2 linked regions of the Homo sapiens genome follow. The protein of the gene in region 1 interacts with the protein of each later gene in a biochemical or structural test. Each region holds a gene or a part of one and is shown on either strand. Other genes may lie near its edges.

Region 1 (4,249 bases):
CAGGGGTGAATGGGGTGAGTGGGGTGAGTCCACAGAACAGTGGGGTGCAGCCCCAGGGGTCTCGTAGCACCTGCCCCCATGTCAGGAAGTCCCACAGCCTAGAGGCTCCAGCCTCAGATGCATACATATGTAGGCCCTGCCCTTTCCTCCTGAGCGGCGGGCCACAGAGTCCTGAACAACAGGAAGCCCCTGAGGAGGGCTCCGCCCTGAGGGAGGGCAGGGGAGCCCCCGCCAGCCCCACCCACAGCAGCGGGCCCTGCCACCCCCCACCCTGACACCTCACCCCTTGGATTCCAGAGAGGAAAGTGGGCTTGTGTGTAGTTTACATGCTCATATCTTAAAATCACTGTTGTCAATAGAACAATTCATAATCATGATGATAAAATAAGATTTATAACCAGCTTCAGTCTGGAGATACACACAGAGCAGATCTTCACTCCCAGACAGGGAGCCCGCAGCTGCCCCCGACCCCACAGGTGCAGGACACACACAGACAGTTCAACCATGTCTTAAACACACAGGTGTTTATTTAATTGTTCATTTGATTGAATTTTTAAGTTCACTTTACTACGTGGATGAGATGGGTGCATATTACAGTAGGCTTTCGCTATGAGCGCTGCCACCATGAGGAATATCCCAGCCCTCAGTTCTGCTTCCCTTTCTGAGTCCCACAAAAGCCAGATGTGGACAGCCTTGGGTTCCCATCCCAGCTGGCTGCTCCTTCTGGGGCTGTCTTGGTGGGGAGAGGGAGATGGGGCAGTGGGTCCCTGCTGACCCCTGAGCCCTGCAGGGGTCAGGATCCTCCCGTGGTCCCTGGGTGTGACTCTGGAAGACACTGGCAGTGCCCGGCCAAGGCCTCCCGCAGGATGGAAGTTGAGGGCCCTGGCTCTGGGTCCTAAGAGAACTCAGCCGCCCCCTTCACACTTTACAGCAAGGGGCCAGGCAGCAGCTTTGGGATGGGGCTTCCGTGGAGAAGTGGGGGATGCTGCAGTGGTACAAAGACAGCCTCCCCCACCGCCATCCTCCAGCTGACCGTCCTCCAAGGCCAGCACTGGGCGTCCAAGGGAAAGAAGGAACTCAGCCCAGAGGGTGTGGGCAGGAGAGGCCTGGAGTCAGGCCTCCACCCACAGCCCCCTCTGGGTGCCAAGTGGGAAGGGTGTTGGGGCTGGCTTGGGAACCTTACCCGCTGCCCTTCCAACACCTGGATCTGTGGGCAGCGGTCCCACAAAATCCCCCTTGGGGCTCCCTGAGGAGGACTTGTGGCTGCCGCTTCCACCAGGGCAGAGGGCACAGGAGGGGCCAGCACTCCAAAGGGCTCTAGGGTGGGTCTTTCAAGGACATCTGCAAAGCCCTGGTGGGGAGGGGCCTGGGCCAGAGGCTCTTTGGAACTCTTGCACTTCTGAGTGGGGGACTGTCCATGCTGCCCACAACCTCTAGACCATGCAGCCTGCTCATGGGTCCCTGGCAGAGAATGCCCACTCCCCAGCAGACTCAGGGCAGGCCCCCAACTGCAGGCTTCCAGGAAGGCCCAGGGTGTCCACCTCACGCCAGGTGGTCTCAGAGGACCCCTGTGCAACCACATTAAGGAAAGCTGCAGCCCCCACCCACCCGCCTGCCAGTTCAACAAGCACCGGCTGCACACGCAGGCTCCCAGGCACCATCACCCCCCTCCCCCGTCGCCCCTCCCTCATGGGGAGCCCCTTCCCCCTGGAAAGACAGCAGGTACTGTAGCCTCGCCTGCTGGCCAGGGGCGCCGGCTCAGAGGACCTGCCCTGACCTGCACGTGCTGACCAGACAGCCCAGCGTAAGGACCCGTGATCCCACGCCACCGCCCTGGGTTTACCACGGTCACCGCCACCTCTCTCACAGGGCCCCCGGGGGACCCAGCCGCGCCCGGCCTGGTGTCTGCACCGAGGGACCGCGTCTCACGCCCGGCGGCTCCTGCAGGGGAAGCCGTGGTCAGCGACTCACCACGAGGACAGGGCAGGGCGGCTGAGTGCGGAAGAGAAGCATGAAGCTGGGGGCGGGGGTGGGGGAGGAGGAACAAAAGTTGCATCTAGACAGAGGTGAACGAAACAAAACCAAAACCCGAACGTGTTCTGTCGCAGGATGGGCGCCGCCCGTCCCGGGCCCTTAGCCCGACATCTCTTCTCGCTGCTCCTTGTTCCTGCGCACCTCGGCCGCGTGCAGCTCCTGCAGGACAGGGGGCGGGAGGGCCTGAGGGCGGGGGTGGCTTGGGGCGACTCCGGGAACCCCCAGGCGCGCAGGCCGTGGCGCCCTGGCACCCGCCCGGCCTCATCCGGGCTGGCCTTCGGCAGGACCCTGACTGAGTTGAGGGGGCGGGAGCACCGGGGAGGCGCAGAGCAAGGCCAGGGACCAAGGACGGGTTTCCTGGGAGCTGGCTGGGCCCCGCTTCTAGCTCGTACCGGAGCCGAGCTTCCTTCAGGGCACTTTCAATATAATGAATTTAGCCATCTATTACTGCGGCTAGTTACTGTCCCGCCAGGACCAGACTCTGGACCTGCCTCGTGCGCTGCTGGGGACGCCCAGTAAACACGGGAGGAGCCCCCGACCCCCACCCCAGCTCAGCGCCTCGGAGTCCCCGGCCCCGCTCTGCGCCCCTCCGAGCTCCGCCCTAGCCCCGCCCCCGCCCAGTGCCCCGCCCCCTGCCTGCTGCTAGCCCTGCCCCCGCCCCGGCCCCTGCCCGCTCCGAGCTCCGCCCCGGCCCCGCCCCGGCCCCTGCCCGCTCCGAGCTCCGCCCTGGCCCCGCCCCCGCCCAGTGCCCCGCCCCCTGACTGCTGCTAGCCCTGCCCCCGCCCCGGCCCCTGCCCGCTCCGAGCTTCGCCCCGGCCCCGCCCCGGCCCCTGCCCGCTCCGAGCTCCGCCCCGGCCCCGCCCCCGCACCTTCTCGCGCAGCCGCTCGCGCAGTGCGGCCAGGTGTGCCTCGCGGATCTCCTTGCTGAGCTCCATCTTGTAGTTGAGCTTCTCCTCCGCCTGGCGGCTGAAGTTGTTATTCTCCTCCAGCGCCTTGTGCAGCACCTCGCGCTCGTGCTCGCGCCGCTCCGCCAGCTGCTTCAGCACCTGCGCCTCCTGCGTCTGTGCGGGGCCGGCGGGCGCGCGTGAGCGGCAACCCCGGGCCCTGCCCGGCCGGACTCCTCCCTGCTCTCCGCCTCCCGCCCAGCGCCCGCTCGCCTCACCTGGCGCCTCCACCTGCCCAGGCCTCGGTGGGCGCCGGGACCCCCGGGCGCTGCCCTGGGAACCCTCGCCTGCCATCCGGCCTGTGGTCGGGGCAGGGCCAGGGGGTCGCGATCCGCCGCCCCCGCCCCCGTCCCTGCCTCGCGCGCGGGTCCCGCGGTCCTGGCTGCGCCCAGGGCCCCCGCCATACCCTGCCGCCACTGCACACCCTGCCCTGCGCGTCTGCCCCTCCAAGGACCAGCAGCAAGAAACCCTAAACTTGTGGGCGGTCTCTGAGCTTTGTCTCTTCCTCGGACATCCGCCCACTGAGCAGAGTAGCTGCTTGTTACACACCGGGTTCCCAGCTCCCAATTAGGTGCCCAGGAGCGGAGGGTCCCCAGGGATGCTGGGGGAGGGGCCGGCTGGTGACCCCTGGGAGGAGAGCGGGGCAGCAGGACCCGCACCCACATGCCAGTCCCTACTAGTCAGCCCTGTGAACCCTGGTCTCTGGCCTCACCGGGAAGGGAACGGAGCCGCTTCCCCTGCCCAATGCGTTGGCCTCCAGGGTGGCACCCCCAAAAGGACATTTTTATCTCTGTTTCAGTCTCAGAGGGGCTGGTGGGAGGGGAGGCTGCAGGGAGGGGACCTGGAGCCCACACCCACCTCTCCCAGGGCCCCTCCGCCCTCCAGCAAGCCTCAGGGTCTTCACACATGAGGCCCTTCCTCCAGCTTCCCTGTCTGGGAGAGGGATGCCCCACCCGACGTCCCCAGGGCCCATCTGGGGACCACCCCCTAGCATCCTGCTGGCCCTGACAAGGGTGCCTCCCACCCTCACCAGAGGCTCCTGCTCCTTCCAGGTGGCCGCCTCGGAACCCTTCCTCCTCTCCATCCCTTTCTTTTTTTGTTCTTGTTTGTTTTTTGAAATGGAGTCTCACCCTGTCGCCCGGGCTGAGGAGTGCAGTGGCGCAGTCTCGGCTCACTGCATCCTCCACTTCTTGGGTTCAAGCAATTCCCCTGCCTCAGACTCCCTAGTAGGTGGGATTACAGGTGTGCACCACCACACCTGGCTAATTTTG
Region 2 (7,036 bases), on another chromosome or scaffold:
TCCAGGTAAGTTATTCTGACCTAAATGCTTTTTTTTTTTTTAAACAAAACCAGGAACCTCAAATCTTGATAGCTCTCAATATAAAAGTGCTACAGAAGATGCTGTCATGGCAGTTCATTTTGGCAATTCCTCACAGCTCAGGAAATGTCTCATTGAAAAGTTATTCTTGCTTCCCTCTCTTCAAAATGATCTAGTAATTACCTAAAGGGATAAAGGGCCAAGGGCAGAACCATCAAATGCTGTTAAGTTTTGTTATGTGTGTCTATGTATATACACAGACACGTTCTCACTTTTACAGACATCCCTCAAAAGGCAAAGCAAGCCAAAACCCACATCTGTTGGAAAAAAAGTTACTGGAAGGTTCATTGGAAATATAATGGTAACAATGTTTCTCTCTGCTGAAGTAAAGCTCACATTCATTTGGGGTACTCAGATCCCACTGCCGAGTCCTACACCAACAAGGTGGATATTTGGAGCAATTATCTAGATAAAGTAAGCCAAAGAAACAATCTAAAATATCCTTAGTTTTGAGGCAAAGCTGCAGGGATTGAAGGTAGGGCTGTGAAGTAGGTATGAAGAGGTTATTTAAATGATCTGAACACTTGGATCAATTTGCATTGACTATGTCTATATGAGCAATCTTTTGAAAACTTGATTACCAAGAAAATATACTCAATTTTTCTTAGGTACCTTTATTTATTTATTTTTGAGACAGTCTCGCTCTGCCGCCCAGGCTTGAGTGCAGTGGTGTGATCTCAGTGCACTGCAACCTCTGCCTCCCAGGTTCAAGTGATTCTCATGCCTCAGCCTCTCAAGTAGTTGGACTACAGGCGTGTACCACCATGCCCAGCTAATTTTTGTATTTTTAGTAGAGATGGGTTTCACCATGTTGGCCAGGCTGATCTCAAACTCCTGGACTCAAGTGAACCACCCATTTTGGCCTCCCAAAGTGCTGGGATTACAGGAGTGGGCCACCATGCCCAGCCTCAATTTTTCTAAGGTACTTTTAAACAAAGGATTTGCTGCCTATCTTCAAGTACTTTTTACCTGATGATTTAACAAACCAAGGTCTGGGGCACTAAAACTATTAGTCAAAACACCACACGAGATTCACCCATGATGTAACATGAATGCCAATGGTCATTTGTATTTTCAGGCTAAGGTTTGGCCTCATATTTATCTCTAAAGTTCCCACTGAGGTTTTCAGATGAGGTTTGCACTGCCATAAGAACTATAAAGTTCTTTTTGGAAAAGGTATTAAGTCATTTGAAAAGTGGAGGCGTTCGTTTTTTAAAAATGATTTAATCAAATTGCAGACAGGTATTTACGACTTAGCTGAAATAGCCTAAGTTAGGTCACAGTGGAATGAAAAATGATGGAGGCAGAACAGGGAATTTTTTAATATCTCCATGTCAGTAGACAGAAGCGTAACTTGAAGCATTTATATCTCTGTAAAGTTTGGCATTTTCCGAAAATGATTTTAAATTTAGTCTTTCCTCTGTATTTCACTGGACATAAAGCTGGAAGTGGAGATATTTCAACAATGGTCACTTTCTAATATAATTCAAATATTTTCTTTGTAATTTTTACCTTTATTATTAGGGAGATTTTATGAGATCAAATAAATGAATCCAAGGTGTCCGGAAGTGATAAGCCAACTGTAATGTAGGTGGAACATGATATGGATATTTTAGATAAGTAGTAAATGATTTTTGTATTATTTGTGTTTGACTTTGCAGTACATTTTTAACTTCACATTTAAATATGTAAGTCTGAAGTTTTGGAGTTCACAGCATTTTTGGCAAATGAACAAAAGGGTGTCTGTAGTGGCCACTTCACATCTATATATAACATATATGCTTACTAATAAATGTCTTCTATAATCTAGAAGACTTGAGTTTATTGACCAGCTCTGTGACCTTGAGCAAGTCATTGTCCTTCTCTGGGCCTCTTTATTTTCTATTTGTAAAATATGAGGTTGGAATAGAGTAGATCCTTTATAAAGTTCTCTTTTAGTTCTTTTTATGTTTATAAATTTACTCTCAAGTTGGCTTATAACTCCTCTGGGGTCAGAGGATATACCTAAGCATTTTCACTTGAAATACCTTTTATGATACTTGATCAAGAGAGTAAGGAAGTGAACAAAATCTTTTTCCTTTCCTACTTTGTACTGAATTAGAGTTAATAAAAATGTTGGTGTCACCAACATGGAAGTTAGGGCAATAGCTGTTCAGCTTTAACCCCCATCCTAAATGAGGCTTCACTATAGCTAGTAAAGTCTTAAGCCCAAGTCACAACGATAACCCTGAGAAGATCTGAAAAGGAATGTACTCCCGTGACATATGACACTGGTTCTTTCAATAGTAGAGATTGATTTACACATATTATCTCTTTAGAACGTAAGTGACAGAAGACTTTTGGAATACAGTTCCATGTCTGGCTAGCCTGTTTTCTGACAAGTTGATAAGGTCACTGCTAGAAAACTTATAAGTTTTCAGAAGTGATATACATTTCTGAGAAAAACATGTTTTTCTTTTTATAAAATGGGGTTATATGCTATTTCTTTTGGTGCTGTTAATATGAGTTAGGAATGTAGCCCAGGTTCTATTATTATTCAAAGTGAATTTGACAATTTGAAAAGCTGAATCTGTAACTTTAGAAACCTTTCTGGAAAGTAACCTGTGATTAAATGTCAAGGCCATTTTATGACAGTCTTAGCGAAGCAGGGGAGAAATTGATTTGAGTAAATAACCACTTCAGATATGATCAAGGAATTATTTTCGGACAACCTCTTGCCAAATGGGTCTTGATGCAGCTTTTTCACTTGATCACTTTTTCCTGGATATGAGGCTTTATTCTTCAAAACCTCCTCCTATTTCTGGCCCCTCCCCCTCCATTTTGCTCTTCTCCAGGCTAGAGACAAAGATGGGAATCCATTCAAATAACAGAAACCACACTTATCAAAAGCTAGTTTGGAGGCATATTTGCAGTTCGAAAGTTCCTCATTTCTCTTACTTTTATCAGAAATTACATACATTAATCTAAATGGATTCCTATTGGTGTTGACATTAAAAAAAACAGCGTGACACCTATTTTACTTTTCTGGGCTACACACTATTTATGTAATCTCTAGGACTCAGACCTAGAGTTGTTTCAGGTCATATGTTAGAGTCTAAACTGAGGAAACCTTTGTGCTAATGTTGGTAAAAGCCGTCCTTGCTCAGCAGGTTCTCAGTGGTTATCAGGTCTAGAATGATGACCATATGCATTATGGACTTTATTTTTTAACTTGAACCACTGTATTCTGATGAGGTACTCTTAAGCTGTGGAAAAGAATTTGTTTGGATGTATAAATGTAGCTTTCTTGGAAGACAGTAGAATTTGGATCACGTTTATAATTCCATGAATCCACTAGGGTTGTTATGATATATATCTAACATAATTTACACATGCAATTCCACTGCCCCCAATGAATATTAAAACTGCAACCTGAATTAGGTTATCTATACCTAAAGTTGCCATTTTTATAAAGCAGTTAATTAAAATGAAGATGCTCTTTTCTCATATTTTGACACTTCAGCAATATGCCATTTTTCTGATAAAAATATTTCAAATTCAGGCTTTTATCTTAGAAATTATTTGATAGCAATGATAATTAAAACTATCAACAGTAGAATAGGACCCAACAAATATGACAACTATTTATCTTGCCAATGTATGAGATGTAGTGACTATTGGTTAGAGTGTAGTAGATGTTTTTAAAAAATAGCACAAATTCTAAATACTAATTTTGATACTATCAAATTTTCAAATGTAGTAAGTTAACTGAAACACACAAACAGAAAAATAATTCGCCTAACTTATTAGATATGACATATACTATGGGGTAAATATTTCATTGGCACACATTAGGAAACTAACACATCTTTAAGAAACAAGAAAACTCAATAGCCCCCACAATAAGAAGTTGTAGTATTTAAGAACGAAACAAGCCACTTATACCCAGAAACCACAAGCTGACAATTCTTTGAAATCTCTTCAGCCTCCCTTTGATGCTGTTCATTGACCCAGCATGGGCAGCGCGTAGCACTGAATGGCAACAAAGATGGGCAGGGTAGTTTGCCTTATCTGATAGCTGGTGGGGACTGCTGACCACATCCCTCAGCTCTGCGGGAAAATGGCATGAGATTCTGAGGATGGTCAGGAATCTGTGCGGCAACAAGACCAGCAAAGTGGCACCTGGGGCTTCAAGGAAGCATGGGTGAGAAAAGCAAAGCAAAAAGGTTAAGCACCCAACTGCACCTCTGATGATTAGGTGCAACACCCCTTCAGTCGGTTGTAAGATGGACTTAGTGTGTATAGGTATTAAAAAGGCAAATAATAATGAAAGTAATAATAAAACAAGAACAAAAATGGAGAATGTGGCTATAAAAGATGGTGCAAATAAGAGTTTCACTCTCCTTTCTGGGGGGCAGGGGCAGTGAGGGAATCATATTCTGTGTCACCTCTGAGAGCAAGGAAATTACAGATTTCTGTTGAGTTCCAGAACAGATGATTAGGGCTTGACTTAGAGGCGAGTTGTAACTTGTTCTTCCTGTCCATCACCCCATTTGTGCATGAGCAAGTCACAAGCCTCTCCCCAAGTTTCAAATACATCCTCTGAGGAGTCTAAAAGTTTAGAATTTGAGGAGCAGATGCTGGATGCACAGTGAAGAGAGCTGGAACAGGCTAGAGGGCATTCACTGCTCTGAGCAGCGCCCTGGACTTCACCTAATTCTACCTCACTGAGGTTAATTTCACTTTGAGAACAGGCCTCTGCTTTCCCTTTCTCCATCTGAGAATATCTGATGTCCTGCCACATACAGTGCTGCTGAACAATTCCATCAGAAATTGTGTACATTGGCTCTGAACTGGGTTCAGACATATGACCATTAAATTTGGAGAATAGGAGACCCAGTTTCTTGAGAGAAGGACCCATGAAGGAGCGTTTGCTTGATGACTCAGCTTTTGACTTTCCTTGGGCACCACTGGACCTTGGCATGGTTCTGATGAGAGGTGGCCCATGGCAAGTCTTTTTCTTGCAGCCTAAATTAAAAGAGACACTCTTGGATTTGGCCCGAGCCCCACCACTGCCATCATTATTATCGTCTCTCTGAGACAGTTCAGTGCTGCTAGTGGAAAAGCTCCTTGGATGTTTTCTATTTCCCAAGAGGTCAAGCACTTCATACCGAAAGCTGGAGATGTCTTGCTTTAATTCCTGGGAAAAGAGAGGAGACATATTATGTCAAGAAGCTTGGTCTTTATTTCAAAGTAGGCACATTAGATACCTTTGGTATGTTCCAGGTTTTTGCCTAGTAGCAAATCACAAAACACCAGAAAAATCTGCCATTATTCAAACACAAGAAAAACATATTAATAATTCCATGGGCAGGGCTGGGCTGGCCATTGGCAAAATTGTACAATGGGTAAAGTTGATTCAGGATTAGCTAACACTTTAGCAGGGATTAGTCTGTTGAGGTGCTTTCATAAGGACTAACTCCTGCTAAGTATTAACTAACAAGTTATTAGATTAGGACACTGGCTCTCAGGTGTCTGCATATAAAAGGACTACTGAAGAGGAAAAAGCTTTTAAGACTCTAACGAGTGAAACTAGAAAAGTTGAATGTCAGGTGATGAGACTGCTGTTTTGAGACAGGGGGCCCTGTTCAAACCTCTATGAAATGTCTTCTATCTCCAACTGGCTGCTTACATACTAGATTGTTCCTTTAAAAGCCAAGCTGAAATCTGTTCATGTACTTCCCCTTCTCAAAACTTGTTACTAACTTGTCACTGACTTTAGGAAAAAGTAGAAATGCCATACCATGGACTACAAGGTTTTTCAAGGCCTAGTACATGTTGCTTTCTCCAGTTTCATCTTTCTACTCTTTTCCTAGGCTCTCTGCTGTCCACCTGTATGGACATATTCTCCCTTGCCTCTGGGCCTTTGCCTATGCTGTTCTCTCTGTCTAGAACATTCTTCTCCCCAACTCGCCCTTATCTGGCTGGCTTTGCTTTCAAGCCTCAGCTTAAGCATCACTTCCATTGGAAAGTCTGTCTTGACTCCCCAAGTCCCAGATGAGCGTCCCTCCTCTCTGTGTTTCCACAGTGTCCTGTGTTTAACCTGTCAGAATATAAAATTGTTCATCACCCTTTATTATTGTTTGTCACTCCTTGAGAGTAGGAGCTGGTTAGATCTTGCTCACCACTGTACCAGAGCACTTAGCAGAGTGCTTGGAACATAGCAGACCCTCAGTAGATGAATTATGTCTATGAATTAGGATAATGGACTTTCTGTGTGCCTTAGAAAATATAGATGTGTTCATGGACACTGGGAGGGGAACATCACACACAGGGGCCTGTCAGGTGGTGGGGGTTAGGGGAGGGATAGCATTAGGAGAAATACCTAATGTAGATGATGGGTTGATGGGTGCAGCAAACCACCACGGCACATGTATACCTATGTAACAAACTTGCATGTTCTGCACATGTATCCCAGAACTTAAAGTATAATAAAAAAATTAAAAAATATATATATAGATGTGTTCTAGGATAGGATTTCTCAATCTTGGCACTATTGACATGTTGGACTGGATAATTCTTGTTGTGGGAGACTGTACTATTCATTGTAGGATGCTTAGTAGCAACCTTGTCTTTACTGTCTAGATACCAGTGTGACAACCAAAAATATCTCCAGACATTGCCAAATGTGGTCTTGGGGACAAAATTGCCCCTGGTTGAAAACGGTTGTTTTAGGCTAATGCCACTAGTATAATTTTAATGTTTAATGGTAGAGTTTCTTAAGACCTTAGATTTAATAACAGATTTTTTGATCTTATATCTTTTAAGTAAAGAAGATAATTAAGTCTGCAGGCATCTTCCCTTTGTTATCTTGTCCCTCACCACCATGCATCCTTGCCACATCATTTAAAGCATTCAATTTCCACACTGAGAAACACTCAGAATATTAAAAGAATGCATACAGCAGATTTCCTTCATT

What was found.
Region 2: the proteins of STMN3 (region 1) and TRPC5 form a complex in vitro, tested with the Homo sapiens proteins (one study listed by BioGRID).

Annotation. Positions count from the first base shown.
Region 1 is NC_000020.11:63,639,205-63,643,453, forward strand, and holds the end of STMN3 (stathmin-3), read right to left. Parts: intron 3,096-4,249; coding exon 2,904-3,095; intron 2,194-2,903; coding exon 2,134-2,193; 3' UTR 508-2,133; downstream 1-507. UniProt on the Homo sapiens protein: Exhibits microtubule-destabilizing activity, which is antagonized by STAT3.
Region 2 is NC_000023.11:111,771,746-111,778,781, forward strand, and holds part of TRPC5 (short transient receptor potential channel 5), read right to left. Parts: exon of another isoform or gene 6,910-7,036; intron 5,258-6,909; coding exon 4,568-5,257; 3' UTR 1-4,567. UniProt on the Homo sapiens protein: Forms a receptor-activated non-selective calcium permeant cation channel. Mediates calcium-dependent phosphatidylserine externalization and apoptosis in neurons via its association with PLSCR1.